2 separate regions of the Homo sapiens genome follow, and region 2 is linked to region 1. Evidence: fine-mapped QTL for protein levels in blood plasma. A gene starts in region 1. The other region holds a variant in brackets. All regions are shown on one strand. Distances are from middle to middle. Region 1 holds the start of SLAMF7 (SLAM family member 7). Region 2 overlaps SLAMF7 (SLAM family member 7).

Evidence for each region. PIP is the chance, under the fine-mapping model, that this variant and not a neighbour inherited with it causes the effect. Protein levels are from the aptamer-based SomaScan assay of Sun 2018.
Region 2: its variant is fine-mapped to the plasma level of the SLAMF7 protein (Sun 2018, PIP 0.95).

The regions. Positions count from the first base shown.
Region 1 is chr1:160,735,770-160,744,162 of GRCh38, reverse strand. It overlaps SLAMF7 (SLAM family member 7), which reads right to left and starts at 4,916. Exons shown (of 7, transcript NM_021181.5): 1 at 4,807-4,916. The coding sequence starts at 4,861. It overlaps LOC124904440 (a long non-coding RNA gene), which reads left to right and starts at 5,004. Exons shown (of 2, transcript XR_007066687.1): 1 at 5,004-5,080. RefSeq lists an enhancer at 1,755-1,834.
Region 2 is chr1:160,745,798-160,754,190 of GRCh38, reverse strand. It overlaps SLAMF7 (SLAM family member 7), which reads right to left. Exons shown (of 7, transcript NM_021181.5): 2 at 5,677-5,997; 3 at 4,098-4,370; 4 at 3,768-3,887; 5 at 2,743-2,846; 6 at 1,943-2,005; 7 at 1-1,085. The coding sequence ends at 1,014. Among named protein-coding and RNA genes, the nearest start is that of SLAMF7, 11 kb to the right of the region's middle. RefSeq lists a silencer at 2,369-2,428. The variant G/A (reference allele first, on the strand shown) is at 3,907.

The sequences.
Region 1 (8,393 bases):
GCAGGTCACACTTGTCAGATTCAGTCATTCCTTCTTTTAACAAGAATTTATTTAGTTCTCATTGTTTAGGAGCTGAGGGTATAACTGGGGAGCAAGACAGTCATAATTCTGGCACTTACGGAGTTGGTAGATAGTCATTAAATAAATAACTACATGTGTTATGGAAAGGGAAGATGCTGGAATTGGTGGCTTATGCCTGTAATCCCAGCACTTTGGGAGGCTGAAGCAGGAGGATCACTTGAGGTCAGGAGTTTGAGACCAGGCTGGGCAACATAGCCAGACCTTGTCTTTACAAAAAATGAAAAAATTAGTTGGGCGTGGTGGCATTCACCTGTGGTCCCAGATACTCGAGAGGCTGAGGTGGGAGGATTCCTTGAACCCAGAAGGTGGAGGCTGCAGTGAGCCGTGATCGTGCCACTGCACTCCACCCTGGATGACAGAGTGAGACCCTGGAGACAGAGTGGCTACCAACCTCTACCCACAAGACTCGAGAGGATTGGGTCCCATGATATTCATCCACTCTCCTCAGGTGCCAACCTTCTACCTGAGTCAGTGCAGTGAAGGTTGTAACCTGCCTCTTTTACATCCATTTTACCCCTTCCTCATTCCGTACAAGCCAAATGGTTTGGGCTACCCAGTTCAGGTGGTAGCCCTTCTCATGTACAGTAATTAGTTCAGGGGTGTCACATGACATGGGTTGACTGCGTAAGGCCAGGATGACAATGTATTGCTGTGGAAAGATATGCAGCTGGGACTGCCACTCACATGTGGCCACCACACAAACATCCCGGCCTCCTCCCTCCCCTGATCCTCAGCTCACTTTCTACCTCACACTCTTGTTTGTGCTTTATCCTCCTCTCTGTTCATGTAAATCTTATTCAAACCCTGTATCTAATTCAAAGCTCTTCCCTGAGGAAGCCTCCAACTCTTCCTCTCACACATCCCCTGAAAATTTACCACTAATTTCACTTCATTGACACTTTAAATTCTCCAGAAAGAAATATCCTCCCTTGGTGGTCGCTGCATATATCATTTTGCTGTGGATTAGCCAATGATTGGTCCACAGGATTAGAGGCCAGATCACCCAATGATGGGGTCACCAAGTCCTGCCCAGAGAGGGGTAGAGGTCGCTTCTCCTCCTCCAGCATGTGGCAGAGGGAGAAAGGGCTCTGGCCTAACTGGGAGTCAGGGTCCATTCTGGGTCCATTCTGCCGCCTCCGTAGTCATAACTCCAGCAGCAAACACCTGGTGTCACTCTGTGGTTTGTAAGCCAGATCAGTGGGCATCCTCTCTCCTGATCCTTAGAACAGCCCCGTGAGATACAGCCTAAGCCCTGCTTTATAAATTGGGATACTGGAGTTTTGAGAAGTGGGGTGACTTTCCTAAAGCCCCAATGAAGAAATGTTGGAAGAGGGAAGAGGAGTTAGTTCCTCTGCCTCAGTGGTCTGTGTTGTTTCCAATATTGCTTCACCACTTACCACTTCGAGTTTTGGTTTCTGAACCCTCATACGAGAAATAAATAACAACATTTAGTTTCCAGGCATTTGGGGAAGATGAAGTGTGAATACAGATTTGAAAGCATTTTGAGAAGTACAGAGTAGCCTAACGAGAAGGTGGGATGCGGGTGACAAGGTCAGGAAATGAGAGCATGAGAGTCAGGCCTTGAGGAGGCTTCCCATCTTTTGGTTTTATTTCTGCACAGATAGCTAAAAATGAGAAACAGAGATATCCCAAAACACCTTTGGATGGCTTCTCAGCAAAGTAAGCCAGAAAGTTAAGACGGCCATGAGCATTCCCCACTACATCCCCCGCCTGCCTTTGAAGGTGGAGGGAGCTGGGGCAGGAGACCCTTTGTCTTTTGCCCCAGCCAAGACTCAGATGTCTTTGCATCAGGAGGAGTCAGCTGTGAGATTTCCTCTGTAACAGGAAGGGATAACAGGTCCTGCCCTTTGTCACCTTCCTTTCCTCTTGGTTGTCACCTCCTCCCCTGTCCTGTCCCCTAGAGTCTCAAGAGTTGAGTGGAGGGAAGGAGCCCGATTATGAGGAAGATACATTATCAGTGCAGCCAGAACCAAGGGATGGTGATAAAGCAGGAAGACTTTGGGGGAGGGGAGAGTGGAAAAGCCTGCCTCCTGCTTGCCAACCCCGTCCCCAAGCACTTCTCTGAACACTTGGTGCCTCTGTCCAAATGTAGCAGTGTGTTGTGGCACTCTCCTCATGAAAACCATGAACCAGAGCATCTCAGAGCTTGGAGGAGTCTTAGGGATTACTTAGTCCAATCCCATTTCACAGATAAGAAGGCTGATATTCAGAAGGTTATGGTGATGTTTCCCAAACCAGTGGAAGGCCAGGATTAGGAGCCAAGGCTCCTAAGGCAGGATTTCACAGACTGTGCCCCATGGCGCCACCTTTGGAGGCTGTGGCAGTGCCTCAGTGTATTTCTTGGGAGCTCAGGAGGAGGTTTAAGGGGTGAGCGTAGGATAGGAGGCTATGGGACTTGCTTCCGTTAGGCTTCAACTCTATACATTGGAGTCATTTATTTGTTTTTTTCTGTGTAAAATTTCATTCCATAAAAGGAAACCATGGATTTAAAAAAAAAGGCAAAAAAAACCCAAAGTGGTTTGAAATCTATTGCACTTTACTCAAGTCCCCCTTAACGAATGTACTCACGAAAGAGCAGTGTAATTCAATGCCACACAAGGCAGCCACAGACAGAGGCTTGAAAGTTTCCCGCTTCACCACACACCTTTCCCATCACTCTAGCCCTAACCGACCACATTCACATTTAGGTTGCTCACCACTCTGCTCCTCACTCATCTCCTGCCCCCTCTTCCTTGTTTCTTCTGGTTCTTTTCAACACTCTCCCAATTCCCCTCACCCACTTTTTTGTTTTCTTTTTATTGATTGTCTCCTTGACACTACTGTATCATCAAATCATTGGCAGATTACTGTGCCCATTTTTCAGATGAGAATACTGAGGCCATGAGAACTGCTTCATGGACCCTCTGAGTTTAGCCAGGGTGGCCCCCTGTTGGTACACCCATATCCCAGAAACAGAGCTACCCGTTCTTCTCGGGCCTTTCCAGTTTCTACCTCAGATTTATGTACCTGGAGAGGGAAGAAACCCCAACTGGTACTCCCTGAGGAAGATTCAGCTCAAATGCACATGTAGTGAGCATCTCTTTGGTGCCAGGTCCAGTGATAGACGGCTTGTTATGATTAAAAGAGCACTAGCTTTCTAGCTTTCTAAACTCAATCTCTGGCTACCTTATAAATGCTGTGTTATCTTGCCCAAGAAGCGTGATCTCTCTGCTGAGCCTAAGTTTCCTCAACTGTAAAACAGGGATAATGATATCTGTCTTACAGACTCATGAGGAGGTGGTATGAAAAACACCTGCGATGTAGTAACTTAATAAATGGTGATTATTTTAATAATTATTTTGCATTTGATATGTCATTTAAAATGTCACAATAATTCTGCAACTTAGATTTCATTCTCTGTTACACACCTGAGAAGAGCAAGGCTCAGAAGGGAAGAGTAATTTGCCTACAATAATACAGCTACTAAGTCAAACCAAGGATGCGCTTGTCCAGTGCCAGGATTTGTTCCACTGCCCTGCCCACTGGAAGTTCCAGGACAATCTCTGTCTCCTTTCAGCCTCAGGAGGTACACTACACAGGCTGCCTCTGGAGGAGGGCAGAGGGGGACCTGCATGGCAGTTTTTCATACTTGTGCTCTTTCGCTGACTGATTTCAGATGGACACCTGTAGCTTTCAAAGTCTCTATAATTTTCCCCAACCCCTCCACCTTATCTCCCTCAAGTTCTATTTCTGCTCATCATTTCCGTTCAGGGAGTTTTTTTTTTGTTTTTTTTTTTTAAAGTGAGGGCCTATTCCAGAACCACCTGGTTAGACCCAGGTACCTCTCAAAAATACAAACTTCTGATGAATTCAAAGTGGGTAAGAGTCTGCTGATGCTGACCACTTAGCGATGCAGGGGAAAATATTGGGGGCACCAGCTGCCTGCGTGGTCTTGGGCAGATCACTCCAGGCAGGCTCAGATACACATAATGAAGCAGTTATGTGAAGTCCTTATAGGGGGACCTCATGGTAGTACTCCATGAGATTGATGACAGAAGAGATATTTCTCACTTATAGGGCTCCTGATCCTTTCTGAGAGCCCTTAGGATAGAAAAATCTTCAAAGACTAGAATACCAGTGACAGGTGGAGAACTGTCCTCTGTCCTCCATGGGATTAAACATAAAGTGCCTATGGTATGAGTTGGTTCTCTAAGTAGAGACTGATTACATTGCTTGAGTAAGGAAAGAAAATTCAAGTGATTCTTTCCATTTATATTACTGTTATGCATAACCAATTTTATAAATACATTTATAAGTAAATAAATACATACCTGTATAGTATCATCTTGTTCTTAAAGTTGCCCTCAAAAGGAGAGAAGGCTAGAAGATAAAGTTTCTGAGGCCCAGGAAAACTTTAACATTCCTTATCTAACTCATGGCAGAACCTGGATTAGAAAAATGGTCTCTGATACCCAGCACCACTTCTTTCAGCTCCTTCATCCCTGGGACAGTCAACAGGGGAGTCAGTTCCCAGAGCCATTTTTCCCCCTCTCTCTAGTCTCTTCCTGACCTGAGAATCAGAGATCAGAGATTGATAAAAAGCAAATGTTAGATGAGAACACAGAGCCTCCCGAGTTGAGCCAGAGGCCCAGAGTGGAACAAGAAACCTGGAACTATTCAGGATGGGGTAGACAGGAGAGTGGAAGAGAATCCGGCCGGACTCACCTGTGAGCTGCCAAAGGATATAGATGAGGGTGAGGCATGTTGGGGAACCAGCCATATTGCTCTCTGGAAGTCAGCCACTGAAATGAAGCCACTTCCCTCTTAGGTATTACTCAGACCTCTTCCCCAGCTGATATTTAAAGAAGCAGGAGGGGTCACGCCGCAGACATGTGAGATTGAGTAATTGCTAAATTATTTTCAGAGTGAATAGAGCATTTTACCTTGCCACCAGCAATCTATGAGAGATCTATTTGCTCCCCATCTTCATCAGCATTTGGTATATTCCCATTTTATATTTTAGCTGTTTTAATAGGTGCTGTAGTGATACCTCATTGTGGCTTTAATTTGCATTTCCCTAAAGCCTAATAATGTTGAACATCTTTTCATGTGCTTATTTGCCATCTATATATCCATATCCTCCTTGGTGAAATGTCTATTTATGTCTTTTGTCCATTTTATAATCAGATTCTTTATTTTTTTTACTGTTGAGCTTTGACAATTCCTTATATGTTCCAAGTATAAGAGTCATTTGTCAGATATGTGGTTTACAAATATTTTCTCTTGGTCTGTAGCCTGTCTTTTCATCTTCTTAACGGGGTCTTTGGCAGAGCAAAAATTTTAATTTTGATGAAATTCAACTTATCAGTTTTTTTTCTACCCACACTAGGGTCCAAAGGTTTTCTCCTGAAAGTTTTATAGTTTTATGTTTTACATTTAAATGTATGATCCTGTTTTAATGTAAGGTGTGAAGTTTAGGTTGAGATTCACCTAAATATATTGTCTATATTCATTGAGAACCATATCAGGTAATATGGTTGACAGTTTTTTTTTGCTTTCGACACTTGAAAAGTGTCATGACACTCCTCCCCTCCATGGTTTCCAGTGAGAAATCAGCCATCATTTAAATTGTTTTCCCTATAGGTAATGTGTCATTTTTCTCTAGCTGTTTTAAAAGTTTTTTGTTTGCCTTTGGTTTTCAGAAGTATGATTACAATGTGCGTGTTTTTTTTTCTTCTGCCTGTGGGTGTTCAATTGTTCTACTACCATGTGATGGAAAAGATGATCTTTCCTACATTGAATTACTTTTGTATCTTTATCAAAAATCAGCACTTATACTTGTGTGGGTATATTCTGGAGCTATCTATTCTATTTAACTGACTTACATAATGTAATTATTTATATATCAGAGCTTAAGTTTGCCATGTTATTATTTTCTCTTTGTTCTTCTGGGCTTTTGTTTGTTTATTTTGTTCCTCTGTTTCACTTTCCTGGCCATCCTGTGTGTTACTGGAATATTTTTTATAATTCCATTTTGATTTATCTATAATGTATCTTTTTGAAGAGTTTTTTTACTGGTTGCTGTACATATTGCATTTTACATACATAACTTTTGATCTACCTATCAGTGTTGACATTTTACCAGTTGAACTAGGTATAGAAAACTTACCTATATTAGGTTTCTTTATTAGTCTATCTTTATACTTGTCTTAAATATATTGTCTATATTCATTGAGAACCATATCGGTAAGATTATAAGTTTTGCTTCAATTGTTGAACATAATTCAGAACACTCAAGAGGAGAAGGACAATCCATTACATTTACCCATATTTTAACTCTTTTCATTGTTATTTCTTTATTTCTAATGTTTCAAGTTTCCTTCTTTTTATTTTTTTTTGGACGAAGTCTTGCTCTGTCATACAGGCTGGAGTGTAGTGGCATGATCTTGGCTCACTGCAATCTCCGCCTCCTGGGTTCAAGCGATTCTCCTGCCTCAGCCTCCTGAGTAGCTGGGACTACAGGCTCATGCCACCATGCCCACCTACTTTTTGTACTTTTAGTAGAGATCAGGTTTCGCCATGTTGGCCAGGCTAGTCTCAAACTCCTGACCTCAGGTGATCCACCAACTTTGGCCTCCCAAAGTGCTGGGATTACAGGTATGAGCCACCACACCCAGCCTTCAAGTTTTCTTCTTTAATCATTTCTTTCTGTTTCAAGATATTCTTTAGGAATTCTTTTATGATAAGCCTGCTGATAACAAATTATCTTAGTTTTCCTTCACCTGAGAATGTCTTGATTTAACCCTCATTCCTGGGTATAAAATTCTAGGTTGACAGTTTTTTTTCTTTCAACACTTGAAAAGTGTCATGACACTCCTCCCCTCCATGGTTTCCAGTGAGAAATCAGCCGTCATTTAAGTTGTTTTCCCTGTAGGTAATGTGTCATTTTTCTCTAGCTGTTTTAAAAGTTTTTTGTTTGTCTTTAGTTTTCAGAAGTGTGATTATAATGTGTCTTGGTGTGAATTTCTTTGGGTTTCTCTTATTTGTGATTCATTGAGTCTCTTGAATCTGTAGGTTTTTACCTTTTGCTAAGTTTGGGGAAATTTCATTATTTTTTGAATACTTTTTTTTCAGCCTCACATTCTCGCTTCTCTCCTAAAATTCTGATGACATGAATGTTATAAATCTTTTGTTTTTCTCCCACAGGGCTCTGAGGCTCCATTTTTTTTTTTTTTTTTTTTTTTTTTTGGCCTATTTTCACTCTGTTTTCAGATTGGGTATTTTCTATTGTTTATCTTCAAGTACACTGATTCTTTCCTTTTTCATCTCCATTTTGCAATTTTTTATTTTTTTATTTTTTCTGAGACAGAGTCTCACTCTGTTGCCCAGGCTGGAGTGCACGATCTCAGCTCACTGCAACCTCTGTCTCCTGGGCTCAAGCGATTCTCCTGCCTCAGCCTCCTAAGTAGCTGGGATTACTGGCACCCGCCACCACACCTGGCTAATTTTTATATTTTGGTAGCGACAGAGTTTTGCCATGTTGGCCAGGCTGGTCTTGTACTCTTGACCTCAGGTGATCCGCCCACCTTGGCCTCCCCAAGTGCTGGGATTGCCAGTATGAGCCACTGGCCCTGGCCTCCATTTTGCTATTAAGCTCATTAAACTCATTCAATTAGTTTTACCTTTCAGTCATTGTATTATTCAATTCTAAAATTTCCCTTTGGTTCTTCTTTATATCTTCTACTCTTTTTTTAAAGACTTTCTAGTTTTTTTGTTTATTTGTTTTAAATGTGTTCATAGCTGCTAGTTGAAGCATTTTTACTATGGTTTCTTTAAAATCCTTGTAAGATAATTCTAACGTCTGTGTTGTCTTGGTTTTGGTGTCTGTTGATTGCCTTTTGTTCATTCAAGTCAAGATTGTCCTGGTTCTTGTTATGATGAGTGATTTTTGACACAGTGATGATAAGGTAGGGGACCACATTACTGCTGAGCAGTGGTAAAAATCCAGACCCTCCATTTGGCCTTTTCTGACACCACCCAAAGCAAGAATTGGGAGGAGTGCCTCATTGCTTCAGGGAGGGAGTGCATGTTCAGTCTTCCTACTTAGCCTCTTCTGATGCCACCCCAGTGGGGAGTGGGGAGTGGGGAGGGATGATTCCTTACTGCCAAGGGGTGGGGTGGGGGGTTTAAATATAGGTTTTCCACTTGGCCTTTGCTGTTGGCGGGGGGGTGGTGTCCCATATTTCCACATGATGTTTGGCTAGAATATGGTGATTATTGTTTAAAGGCTTCTATTCCAGCAGTCCCCTTTC
Region 2 (8,393 bases), 10 kb before region 1:
TGTGAGCCACCATGCCGGGCCGCATAGGTTCTTAATAAATATCTATTGAATGAATTAACCATCTTTAAAGGTTTACAAGTACCCACTGCCCCCCGTGCCCCACCAGTCTCACTGCCTGACTCCAAGTCTCCTACACTAGATTTACAATGTGACTTCAGACTCGGTCTCTTTATTGGGATGGGTTCTGGCACAGCCTTAAAACCTAGACTTTTCTTTTGCAGCACAAGTGCATAAATGAAGCCTGGCTGGAGGTCCTTGTCCTTGGGCCATGCACACTTCTGTGTCTCCATTATAGTATCTGCCAAACATGGTCAGCTACCCTGATTCTTCATCTTTGTGAACTTTGACCTTCAAGTCCTGTGGATCCACACCTGGCCCTCTGGGAATCTGTGGTCAGGCCTGCTACAACTGCTCATGAAAGTAGTTCATTCATTTGGAGCCAATTTCATGAGGGCAGACAGCATGTCTGACCAATTAGTGTAAGCTCAGCATAGTGCTGGGCACATAGTTTATAGAGCCAATTAATACATCCATTTTTGTCAGGTGCATCTGCTTCTGCTGGACTTGTCTGTCTGTTTTGGTCTTCTTGCCCTCCTGGTAGCAAGACTCTTGGTATAATCCTGACATCCAAGCCCTGGGATGGAATGAAACTCCAGACACTGACCTGGAGCCATCATTAATACAACAGGCTGTCATTAATATGTGTGACCTTGCATTTACATTTTTATAGGAATACTTCTAAGCACTTTTTTTATGGTTTGCTGACATTCACAATCCCATTTTTGGGATGAAGTGATTAAACCTTCTGGGTTTGAGGAGATTTCTCAGCAGTGGATGGAATTATGAACTCTTAAATCTAAAGAAGCATCAGAGATAATTTATCCTGGAAAAAAGTCAACGTTCTTCATTCTTCCTTGATGTTTCTAGTCAAATCAGTGAATTCTTCTGATTGTTTTCTTTGGGCCGAGAATTGTTTTTTTTTTGAGCAGAGACTTAGGGGAGTGCACTGCTGTCTAGATAACATTCTCATAGGCAAATAGCCTTGGTGTGTCTGGCATCGTGAGCAGTGAGTGGGGATTTTCCATCTGAAGACAGACAAAAAGAAAGTAGAGTGAGGGAGGTGAGCAGGGCTCTGGATCGTCCATGGAGACCCTGACATCCAGGAAACTTTATTTCCAAGGTTACCCAACCCAAATCGGCTGGCATGCTGGCTCCCACTGTTTGATTTTAATCACCCCTAGCTTAGAGAAACTATTCTGTAAGTTTAACGCATATTTATCTTGCTGAATGCTTAATGAACTGAACTTTCCTTGTTCAGTTGTAATAATTCACTAAACCAACCTTTTCTATTACTAAGCAAACTGCTTTAATGATTCTTATCTTTTTGGATCTGTTTGGGAGAGGAAGAAAAAGGAGACAGAAAGATACCATTACTGCTGCCAACCGTACTCTGTGAAGGAATAAGCCTTAAAGCTACTGCATTAGTAGTTTAACTGAGGGGAGGGTGCAAAGCAGATGTAACATAGCTGGACCATGGGAGAAAAGTAGAGATCTCTCCCTCCTGCAGTTTCCTGGTGTCTCAGGAGAAAGCTGGACTCTCCTCTCAGCTATTCCTCTCTTCATTCCATGCACAATCTAAGCCATGGTCTTTTTCCTTGTCTGCAACTTCAGTCAGAAGGCTTTTGATTTTCTTTATTATTCCGATCTAGAACCTCTGTCCTACTCTATTTGTTCCAGATTACCCAATTCGATTCCTAAAACACAATTCTCTTCCATCCCCCATGTTCTTGTATAACCCTAAGCAAAGGGAATGGGGAACTACTAGGGTACTTTTTAATTCTAGAGAGTATGAGATACCTGGGTCCAAGAAATTTTGACCTAAACATGAAGCAGGAAAAGAAATGGAACCATTAAGATGAAGTTAAGCTCTAAAGCTTCTTACCTTTTTCGGTATTTCCACAGTGGAGTAAACCGTATTTGCTGGATCTTCCTTTAGGATTGTTCTCTTTTAAAAACAAACAACAAACAAAAGAAATCATCACCCACCTCCTGAATCACATAGACAAGGCCAGAGAGACATTCAGAATCCAGAGAGGGGAAAGCAGAGATGGGAGGAGATGTGAGAGGAAAAGGAGGGTTCTGGAACAGGGAAGGGAGGTAGGAAGTTCTCTTGTTGGTGACTGCTATTATAATAAATTTTGATAACTTTTTTCAGGAAGCCATTACATTATTTTTAAACTGTACTGTGTTAAAATGAATTTCAAAAATATTATATATATATGTGTGTGTATATATATATATATATATATATATATATATATATATATAGAGAGAGAGAGAGAGAGAGAGAGAGAGAGAGAGAGAGAGAGAGAGATCTCTAGAGAAGTCTTCTGATACCATGATTCAAACATCCTGTCAAAGTCACACTCTTCTACCCACTGCCTTATGCAAAAGGAATCTGGCCTTTTGTGTGGCCGTTATGAACTGTGGAGGGGAGCAGGTGATTTCACAGACCACAGCATGAGCATTGTGAGTCAGAACCAGGTGCTCCAGAGACCACCAGCTTCTTCTGCACAGAAGAGAATCCATGAAGACTTGGAGGAGGCACAGGTGCATTGAGTTTTAAGTCTATATATCCTCACTCCCCTCTTCATTCCCATGTTGTCCAAACCCATGGAAAAACCTCACAAGGAGAGCCTCAGAGACAGGATCAGTTCTCAGGAAAGATGAGAAGGGACTCACATTAGTGTGAGGGATTGTGTCGTACTCTGTGTTCTCTCCAGAATGGGGGCATATGTTAGGAGTTTCCCGACAAATGTCCACTCTCTTCTTCTCTTCAATGTACTCTAAAAGCAAGTTGGGAGAGAATCAAAGCCACCTCTCCAACCACTCACCACTTCCACTGGCCCACCATTTCTCCTGGATGACCCACTTAGGGTGACCAACCAGCCGAGTTTCCTTGTAATGGAAGGGTTTTCAGGATAGAGGACTTTCAGTGTTAAAACTGGGAAAATCTAAACAAATCAGGATGAATTGGCCACCCCCAACATTTCACTTCCTGATCTCTCCATCAAGGTGGTCAAAGTGGGAAGTAGAGAAAGTCAAAGACACTTTCAGAGGGGCTTCCAGGAGGGAAGGGAGATTTCAAAGTCTGCAAGTCATACCCAACTGATGTTAGGTCCCTCCCCATCACCCACATGGACAGTGGGAGCCCAGAAGACCAATCAGCAGGGTTTAGGAACACAGGATGGGGTGCAACTGGAGAGAGACAGGGAAAGGCTTCCCCAGGAGCCATGTGTCTAGTGGGCAGTAAAGCGAGGTCTTGGGTTGATCCTGTGGAAAGGGTGTGGGTGGTTTGTGGGCTCTGACAGGGATAGGAAGGATTGACTAGAGGATGCTGGTCTGTGGGGACCTCAGAGTTGGAGGCCATCACCTCCCAGGTCAGGGGAGCAGAGTCAGCAGTGTGGGGCCTGTATCAACAGAAGAGCCACATCAGGATGTCCCTCTGGGAGAAGGAGAGAAGTGAGCCCTGGAAAGGGAACTGGGAGAACCGTGTCCTTGGGAAAGACCTCCAGCACTTTCTCTACTCCAGAACTAAGGAGCACAGGCTGACTGTATGCTTCTTGAGGGCAGAGACTGTGGCTTCTTCATCTCTGCATCTTCAACACCTCATGCCAAGTCTGGCACACAGCTCTATATGTGCTTGTTGAATCAGTGAAGGAGAAAAACATGAATGTGGGTGAGGACAAAAATAGTACACGCTCTACCTTCTTGTCTCTCTCTCTTCAGAAACCAAAGAAATAGCCCCAGTACAAAGAGACTGAGCAGGAGGGGCACCAACAGGAGACACAGGAGGACCATGGAGGAATCTGGGTCATCAGCAGCACCTTCAGAGAATGGGTGGAG[G/A]CACAGGGAAGGGAGAAAAGTCAGCTCAGGAAAACGACCCAGGTCTTGGAGCACCTGCCACCTTCCTCCCAGCCTGGTGACCACCCAGCGGCCTCCAGTTTCCATACAGTGTCTGTTCCCATGGGGGCTAGGAGCTGAAGAAGGTGTAGGACCTGGGCAGAGTCTCCTGTGGAGAGGGGAGAGGCAGTCACCTTCACAGAGCTTCCTGGCAAGGATGGGGCTTGAGAAGTTTCTGCTGACAGGGTTCCTGGCAACGCAGATGAAGGTCATATCACTTTCTCCCCATCTCCAGGAGATGGGGAGGATGGACCCATTATGGGACTCATTGGCTGCTTGCCCCAGGGCCTTCCAGGTATAAATCACATCCTCTTCCCCATGTTCCATGCAGCATGTCAGATTGGTCACACAGGTGCCATTCTTATTGCTCTGCAGACCCATGGTGACTTTAGGCTTTGACAGGTGCTCTGTGAGAGGAAGGAAAACCAGAGGTGGAAACTCTGCCTATAGCTCTCCATTCTCTGAATTATCCTTGGATACCTTGGACCTGAATCTCCCTGGGAGCTCCAGACTGGAGAGAAAGCAGTAATTCAGAGCAGAATCCTCATTCGTATCTGGAAAAGAGAACTACCTAGGTCTGCTTTACCATAGCTATATAATAATAATAACAATAACAACAATAGAAATAATAGAAATAATAATGCAATAAGAATATAACTGTCATTTACTAAGCATAGCCACATGGCAAGCACTGTGATAACGCATGTTAGATGTCCGCTAATATTATCTGTTCTAGAGGTTCCCTAGTCTCTGTCCTCAGGCTTCCCTTTACTCTCTATGAGAGTTCACTTTACTCTCTAGGAGAAAATTGTGTTGGAGTAGCCCTTCTGGCCCCCTTCTCTACTCTGTGCTCACTCCCCTGCCTCAGAGAATGAGTAGTTGGTTCATTGGTGAGATGGTAAGAGTCTGACATTCATCATTTACCTTTCTCTACTCATGGGTTTGAGACGTTAAAGGTTGCAGTTAAAATGTGTTTTGCCCTTTTTCTTCCTCCCCTGACTAGTTAGCCTGCAGAATACATATCTTCTGTTCCCTTCAACCATGTCTATATGGAAGACACACCTGGATCAGGTGCAGTGCCTACCTCCTACAAGCAAGTCTGGAGGCCCATCCCCTAAGGTTCCTGATACTGTGGCTCAGTGAGTGAAGCAGCTATTCTTCTTGAAGAAGTTTGAGTCATTGTTTCATAATTTTAACTTCCCTGGATGAGTGCCAAGGTCTAGAATTGAAAGGAAGCATTTCTCCTGTCTAGATTTACCAGAAATATGCTGATATTTTAATCCCCTCCTTCTTGCATCTATTTATCAATTGGTTGTAATCTGTAGAGAAAGAGATGTGATCGATATTTTGCCCAAAAATCTTCCTAAGGTAGGCATTTCTTTCCTCCCCACTACAGATATGGAAACTAAGACTTGAAGAAATTAAATAACTCGGCTAAGGTCATGTGACTAAATAAAGAAGCCAGCATTTGACCTTGATCTATGCGATGGCCACTGCACATATCAGCCATCCACTGCACCACGCTGCTTCTTACAACATCTCTGAGTAGGCAGGGACCTCAGGGGTCAGCTACATCTATTTCATTCATGCAGAAGTCCCCTCTCCCACATTCTTGCCAAGTGTTTATTCAGCCTCTGCTTAAACATCTCTCATGTCAAGGAGCTCACCACCTCACCAAGGCAGCCATCCACCATTGGAACTGATTTTGCTCACCGTAGACATGCAGCACGTACTCCTGGGTGGAGGGCTGCTGGAGTGATGAGCTGTATATCCCCACATAGTAGATCCCTGAGTCATTCTTCTTCAGTTTGCTGAGCTTCAGGGAGTAGCCTCCATCTGGGAAGTCTACTCTCTCCCTATTACGATTTTGGGTCACTATGATAGTGCCCCCTTCTGGCTGTATGGTGACAAGAGGGGTTGTGTTGAAGGTCCAGACAATAGAGTCAACTTGCTTTACTTTGGACTTCAGGGGGAAAGTCACGGCCCCACCAACGGAACCGACCAGCTCTTTCACGGGTCCAGAGGCTGCTGACCCTATAAACACAGAGAACCATAAAATAAGCCTGATTCCCTGTCCTTGTCACCAATTACTCACCCCCTTTGGGTCCTGGAGAGATCTGAGAAACCCACTCAGTCCAACACAACAACCTCCTGGAAAAGCCTTTGGAACCTCATATAGAGGTCCCTCACATGTTACCCTATTATGTAAGTGCTCACATGGAAGCATTATATTAGAAATTTATGTATCACAACAATCTTAGTTCACTCCCAGAGAGTATGACTTATAAAAAATCATCACTGATTATGTGGTTGTAGGTGAAAAACAGTTAAGAATGTCTGCTGAAGAAACTTCCAGAAGTGGCCAGCTGAGCATTACCAGTAAACAGATGTGGGGAGTAAGTCATCTTATTCTTACCTATTAAACTTGAGAGACAGACTCTGGGAATAACACAGAGCAGTGAGAGAATTTAGTTTGGGACTAGCAGTTTAAAAGCATAAATTATAATCTTGATTAACACTTTTGTTTTTGAGACAGAGTCTCACTCTGTTGCCCAGGCGGGATTGCAGTGGCACGATCTCAGCTCACTACAACCTCCACGTCCTGGGTTCAAGTGATTGTCTTGCCTCAGAGTGATTGTCTTTCTTCAGCCTCCTGAGTAGCTGGGAGTCCAGGTGTGTGCCATCTTACCTAGCTAATTTTTGTGTTTTTAGTAGAGGTGGGGTTTTCACCATGTTGGCCAGGCTGATCTTGAACTCCTGACCTCAAGTGATCTGCCCGCCTCTGCCTCCCAAAGTGCTGGATTGCAGGCATGAGCCACCACACCCAGCCTTGTTTAACTCTTAAAACAACTTTTTGAAGAAACATTCTTTATATCCCTATCTTACGGATCAGGAATGTGAGGCACAGTGGGGGTAAATGACTTACTCAAGCCACCTAGTAAGAGGCAGAGTACACACCAAAACCCACAGGGTCGAGACCTTGAAGGGCATATTTTATAGATGAGAAAACTAAATAGTAGAAATGATAAGAACTTATTCAAGGCTGATAGAAATACAAAAACTAAGACTAAATCCTTAAAGGTGAGGCAGGTTAGGTAGTCAAGGAAGTAACAGTGTTCTCAGGAGGCAGTAACTCTGGTGACCCTACAGTCAATACAATAAGCCTCAGCATTCACATTGTAATTGAGCTCATTTAAGCAAAGCTATCTTCAGTGAGGACTTTCCGCTGTAGAGAGCATGCGGATTTTGATTTTACTTGTTCTCAAACTGACCCTTTGCTCATTATAATAGTAAAAAACACACCCATGGGTGGAGATTTAAGATGCTAATGAGACACGAGATTTATGAAGAAGCATGTATAGCTACTGTGCACGTCCACCCAGAGGACCACCAAGAACATGGTTACTAGTAACACCTCTTCCCACCCTCTTATGAATAATCATGTAAGACTCCCATAAAGGGGGTCTCCCCAGTGCCAGTCTTTGCTGTCTCATCCTTATGGGCAGCCCACCCTGAATTTTCCTTCTCTCAGAATGTACTGTCTTTTCTGCACTTAACTGTCAAAATATTCTTATTCTTTTGCAATCAATTACCCTATGCTGTATTTCCTTTGCTGTGTATCTCTCATATAAATTCTTTTAAACTAAGTAGACAAGAACTGAGGTCTCACATCAGCTGTCAACAAAGGTGTTCTCCTTAAAAGTACAAAACCCAAAGTTATTTCCCCTTCTGCCTCTTAACATAAAGTGTCAGGGTGAAATTTTTAAATGGAATTTTTATTAATTCAGTCATGAAAAGCACAAATGAAAGAAGCAAAGCCAACAAAACAGCCAAGCTATAGGATCCTGACAGTTCTAATGATGCTACTGCAAGGCTACATGGTGACTTTTGTGGTTCCTGTGTACTTTTGACCTTGTTGGTCCTTCTTCCATAAGAAATATTAAAAATCATATTTCATGACTGTGTTGGTATAAAATGAATGTGATCCGGGCTGGATTCATTATATATTCATTGTTATTGTTATTGCTATATTCATTTCTCTTCTGATTTTAAAAGAAATTAAAATTAAAACTATCGTGGGCCTTATGTACAGTGTCTCCTGTGTGTAATTGGCCCTGTGAGACTGACCAAGCATCCAGGCTCTGTTTCATTTCACAGCCTGCTCTCTTAGACACAATCTTTTCTTCTACTCCAGTACTGATGTAACTCATGCCTTTTCTAGTAAAAGGACAAATTCCTATACAGACATATCCAGATATCAAAAATTGCTTCATTAGAGATTTATTTCTTTGGTCCCTGTTAAAATCAAATATCTTGGCAAGGGTTTCCAAATTATAAGAGTTGTCATGTATTAAATGTTTATTCTGCACCAAACGTTTATTGTAAAGAGTATGCCTAACACTCAAAGCAATCCTGCAAATTAGGCATTT